Regions from separate parts of the Homo sapiens genome. Here region 2 is linked to region 1. The links come from fine-mapping of genetic effects on gene expression. A gene starts in region 1. The other region holds a variant in brackets. All regions are shown on one strand. Distances are between the middles of the regions. Region 1 holds the start of SERINC3 (serine incorporator 3). Region 2 has its middle 3.1 kb from the start of LINC01620.

Evidence for each region. PIP is the estimated chance that this variant, and not a neighbour inherited with it, causes the effect.
Region 2: its variant is the best candidate, but not a certain one, in a credible set for the expression of SERINC3 in whole blood (INTERVAL, PIP 0.61).

Annotation. Positions count from the first base shown.
Region 1 is chr20:44,520,449-44,523,365 of GRCh38, reverse strand. SERINC3 (serine incorporator 3) reads left to right here and starts at 1,296. Exons shown (of 10, transcript NM_006811.4): 1 at 1,296-1,453. The coding sequence starts at 1,415. RefSeq lists enhancers at 1,104-1,398, 1,305-1,614, 1,533-2,085.
Region 2 is chr20:44,466,990-44,469,906 of GRCh38, reverse strand. No RefSeq gene overlaps it. Among named protein-coding and RNA genes, the nearest start is that of LINC01620, 3.1 kb to the right of the region's middle. The variant T/C (reference allele first, on the strand shown) is at 1,507.

The DNA of each region.
Region 1 (2,917 bases):
CAACTTGACTTGAGCTGGTATTTGTGTATGTGTGGTGAGGAGAGGGATCTGGGAAAAGAGAGGTAGGAATTATTAAATGTGAGTAGTTCTCTTTCTTCTTTCATCAGCCCTTTTCATGGCCTTGGGCAAACTTTGAGCCTCATTCCATTTCTGTAAAAGATGAATTTGGAATACATTTTCAAGGAATCCAGGAAATAACATCCCCAAATATGCCACACTGGTATGATGATTGCTTGGGGAACAGCACATGGAGAGAGGGGCTTTTCATGAATTTCCCTTATCAGACTAAAGGCTGACAATCCAGAAGGAATTCAATTATGAATCCCCTTCCAGAGAGTTTTATCTATCAGGGAAGATTAACACACCACAGGAGAAGATATTGAAGTGTGACACCTTGTTGTCCGGACATCATCATTGTTTGCCACATTCCACCTAAACTATTATATGTGTAAGTAAAAAATGTTTTCATTTTCTTCTTTAAGTGAACTCTCAAATTTGACATGTATTTTGAAAGGAATATTTACATCACTGCTTAAATGGGAAATCAGCATTGCTCGGAAGAAATGAAAAGGTTATTGCTAACACACACCTCAAAACAAAACAATATTTTAAAACTGCAGGCATGGTTGCCTGTTTGAGAGATCTGGAAAATGAAGGCTTTACTCTGTTAGAAAGGGAGATAAATACTAGAAAAATGTTAAATACCATACTGGCCTCAAACAACTAGCCTGTTGGTTTGAAATGGGACGTTCTCACTCTGCTGTTTAATATCGCTTAATGTCCTTCATGCACCCTTAGAGCCATTCATTTTTCCCAAATGGGGTGCATCCCACATTTTAGGATACGATTTCCATCGTTTCTAGGTTAATTTGGACTCATCCTTTAGTTCGCAGATTAAAAAATAAATCCTTCAGAGAAGCCTTCCAAGACTACTGCCCAGCTAAATTACTTTCCCCTTACAATAGGAGGCACTAAATACACCTTTATTGAAAGCCTATTCCCCCATACTACTTCATCGTATTCATTACATTGGGGCACGGTGCATTTATGTTGTCAGATCTCCTATTAACTAGAGAATAAATTCTGAGCGTACTGTGCCTCTCTGTACACTTCTGTAACTTCCAGATCTTTGCACAATGAATACAAATGATGTAAGGAATGACACCTTCACAGTTCCTGCAACCCCAGGATGGTTTAGCCCCACCTTCCCCCTCAGCCAATGACAGGCGCCCCCCTCTGCCGCTCCGGTCGCGGACGGTGGGCGGGGCCACGCCGTGACGCATCCGTGCGTCTGTGGAAGGCTGCGTTTCCGGCCTGAGAAACCGTCATGTTTCTGGGGAGTCACCTCAGCTGGCAGTTACCACCGTGTTAGAAAGCAGCCTCAGGACCGGCCACCTCCATCACTGGCGTCACCATGGGGGCTGTGCTGGGTGTCTTCTCCCTCGCCAGCTGGGTGAGTTCGGGGTCCCGAGTCCTCGCCGGACCTGCGGTTTGCGGGGAAAGGCCTCGAGACCAGAGCTGCACGGGCCTTGGCTCCAGAGGCTCTCGGGATGTCAGCAGGCCCTGGGCTACAGAGGGTCTCCGGGGCCCCAGACGCAAATCCGCGATACCCTCAGGTCCAGCTTAGGCGGCTCGCCCTCCGGGTTCCTCGGGGAACGGAAGAGGCTAGGCCGCCATTGTTTACAATTCGGATGGCTCCGCCCTGCGAGGCTTCCTGACTAGGTTCCTCTGGAGCTGGAGAGGGACCAAGGAATGACAGCTCCCAGCGAGGGGCTCCGGTTCCTCCCGAAGCACCTCTTAAGGTGCCATCATTTAGTTCTAGGTGGCTCAAGTAATATTTTTATCCCCTAGCACGGGATTTGCCAAAACTACAGAGTGTGTGGCAAAGCTGGGGTTTTAGCGGAGGCTTGTCTGCAGTTCAGGTGCAAGGGAAAGAAGCCCTTGTGGATTGTTATTCAAAATTGGAAACCAGGGCCTGAATATTTTGGGACTGCTGTAAGTCATTTATCCGAGGATAATCACCCCAGCATTCCTCTCTTCGAGAACGATTGTGACAGTGAAGTGAAGGTTTAATCACCTTGTAAACTGTAAACATTTTAAAGAGAAAATTATAGGGCCTATAAAAGAATATGCTGAGTTCCCTCATTTACCCACTTCAGAGGAGCGTGATTCCTTGATTCCTCATTCTCCAGCTGATTTAATTGACCAAGTGTGTAGAAAAAGCACACTCAGTTTCTCCTGCTGTACTCACAACACACTTTTGACACCTGATGTGTGGTGTGTGGGGATTTTCCCCCAAACATCAGGCAAACAGTCAGCTCTGCAGGGGATGCCAACTTGGTGCCCTACAAGTCAATTCCGAAGCTCTCTACTTGGAGATAGCATCAAATCACACAAGTGGAGGGCTCAGTCTCACAAGACTGTGCCCACTTTCTGTGCCAATGGCAAGCCTCAGGTTGTTTTACCTGTGCTTCTGACCGGCCACCTATAAATCAAAGTTCCCGTGACCTCCCTCCTTGGCTTTGATTAATTTGGTCACAAAACTCAAGGAAACATGTTTACTGGTTTATTATAAAAGTATTTTATTTTGTGTATTTATGTATTTTTAATTTTAGATTCAGAGGGTACATATGCAGTTTTGTTACATGGGTATATTGCCTTATCGTGAGGTTTGGGTTTCTAATGATTCCGTTGCCCAAACAGTGAACACAGTATCCAACAGGTAGTTTTTCAACCCCTATCCCCCCACCGTCCTTCCCCACTCTTGGACTCTCCAGTGTTTATTGTTGCCATCTTCGTGTCTGTGTTCCCAGTGTTTAGCTCCCACTTGTAAGCGAGAATATGCTGTATTTGGTTTTCTGTTTCTGTATTAATTCACTTGGGATAGTGGCCTCCAGCTGCATCTTTGTTGCTGCAA
Region 2 (2,917 bases), 53 kb after region 1:
CAACAAAGACAATACTTGCAGTTGATTGAAACTTATCAAATATGTTTAGCCGGGAGTGGCGGCTCACGCCTGTAATGCCAGCACTTTGGGAGGCTGAGGCGGGCGGATCACCTGAGGTCCGGAGTTCGAGACCAGCCTGACCAACATGGAGAAACTCCGTCTCTACTAAAATACAAAAATTAGCCAGGTATGATGGTGGGTGCCTGTAATCCCAGCTACTGGGGAGGCTGAGACAGGAGAATCTGTTGAACACGGTAGACGGTGGTTGCAGTGAGCCAAGAAAGATCATGCCACTGCCTGGGCGGTTGAGCGAGACTCCATCTCAACAAAAAATAAATAAATAAAAATAAAAAGTGGACTCAACTAAACAATAACATCTAGGAATGCACACTCAGATGATTAAGTCATGAAGAAATGCAAGGAAGTAATTAATAGTCGGATTAGTGATTATTTTGGGGGGATGGGCTGTGATTGGTATGGAGTACCTGGTGAGGTGGGGAGGGGAACCCTGAGGTGGCTGAAAAAATTCTGTATTTTGACCGGGGTGGTGGTTACAGGGTGTTTGCCTTGATATAACTCACTAAGCTACAATTTTTTTTTTTTGAGATAGTGTCTCACTTTGTTGCCTGGGGTGGAGTACAGTAGTGTGATCTCAGCTCACTGTGGCCTCAGACCTCCCTAGACTCAAGTAATCCTCCTGCTTCAGCCTCCTGAGTAACTGGGGCTACAGGTACGTGCCAACCATGCCTGGCTAATTTATGTATTTTTCGTAGAGATGGCATTTCAGGTTTTGCCATGTTCCCCAGGTTGGTCTCAAACTCCTGAGCTCAAGTGATCTACTCACCTCGGCTTCTCAAAGTGGTGGGATTACAGGTGTAAGCCACTGCACCTGGCTGCTACAAATTTAATTTGTGTGGTTTTCTGCAACTGTTTTGCTCTATAATATAAAGGTTTTAAAAAATGAGGACAGCAACACTTACTTCACACTATGTGTGTGTGCATATGTGTGTTTACATGTACATATACATGTATCTAAATGTATGGTTTCTGTTAGCACCAGGTATGTAGGTAGATGCTCACTAAATATGACTTCCATGTGAATTTTGTTCAAAACACTGACCCGTGTGATTTCAGCACCATTACCGACATTACTAACTTGTGTGGCTAATTAAAAATAGTTCATGCTTCCCAACTGGGGCAGAGACTGGAAAAATAAAACAAAATAAAAAATCGTTAATGGTTATTAGGTGATACTATGTGCCAGGCACTGTTTCCAGTGCAACTAATCTAATTGAATCCTTATAACTGTATTATGATTATTCCCATTTTACAGAGAAGAAAACTGAGGCTTAGAGACTTTCCCTGTGGCCACACAGGAGGTGGCAGGGCAGCCTGTTTTGTTTTGTATTATTTTGTTTTGAGGCAGCGTCTCACTCTGTGGCCCAGGCTGGAGTGCAGTGGCACAATCTTGGCTCACTGCAACCTCTGCCTCCTGGGTTCAGGCTA[T/C]TCTCTTGCCTCAGTCTCCTGAGTAGCTGGGATTACAGGGACATGCCACCACGCCCAGCTAATTTTATTTGCATTTTTAGTAGAGATGGGGTTTCGCCATATTGGCCAGGTTGGTCTCGAATTCCTGGCCTCAAGTGAGCCACCCGCCTTGGCCTCCCAAAGTGCTAGGATTACAGGCATGAGCCACCGCACCTGGCCAGTAGCCTGGTTTGGAACCCAGGCAGTCTGGCTTTCAGCTCTGCCCTCTCATCCACTGTAGCATATGTACCATACTGTTTTTTACTTGGTGTCTAGTGCCCCTGTTTGCAATAATAACTCCCCCTTATGGAGTGCCTGCTAATATGTGTGCCATTCTTTGACATTCACTACCCGAATCTCACATCAACCCTGGAAGGTGAAGGTACTTGTTAGTCTGCATTTGGTGGCTAGGAAAACTAGAACTCAGAGAGCTGAAAAACTTGCTCAAAGTAACAGAGTAAGTAAATGGCAGTAAGTGATGGAGGAGGAGTTTGAATTGGGGACGGGGAGGGTTCATACTCTGACCCTTGGGATTCTAAAGAACAAAGTGTCCTATACTCTTAAACAGATGCTCATCTGATGGGTCTGACCCAGTTTGAGGTCATGCGTTGCCCAACCAGTGGTCCGGAGCCTGGCTTGGCTTGAGAAGTGTCCAGACGCAGGCTGGGGGAAGTCAGAGGCTTCGCAAACACCAGACATGTTTGACCCCAATCAGAGGGTCGTGCAAAGCTTGTGACCCCGGGCCTGGGGTTCCCTAAGGAGCGAGAGACTCCTGTTTCTCCATGTGCCAGCCTTGTGCTCACAAGCTGCAGAATCAGGTCCTAGAACGAAGCTGGCCACCTCTCGGGACAGGGTAAAGAGATGCCCATGGGTTGGCTGTGCAGATTTCCCAGAAGTGGGAAGAACCTGGCTGTGTTTTTGTGGTCACACATTGATTTCCTAACCTGAGTCAGCATGGCTGCTTGGAGGTACAGTATGTCCTCTCTGTTCCCAGGGGCCCTGGATCCCAGCCTGGCTGAAGCATTTCCAAAACAGGGCCTGGAATAGTGAGGGAAACGGAAGGGGTGGAGATCCCAAATCCCCTCCGTCAGTACCAGCCACCCACCGTTGTATTAAAAACGCCCAGCATGGACTGAGTTCTTACCAGGTGCCAGGTCCCGTGCTAAGCATGTCATATGTATTCACTTAACTAACCTTACAGAGATGCAATGGAGTAGAGGCTCTTCCATTTAACAAAGGAGTAAACAGACTCAGAGAAGCCACATCACTTGTAAATGGTCCCACGGAGATGGAATTTGCAGGTCTGTGATTGTGGAATTCTGGAGTGTTAGCTCCGCAAATTCACTACTTCACTCAGCCCTCACCACAAACCCCCACCCAGTAAGGTGCTGCC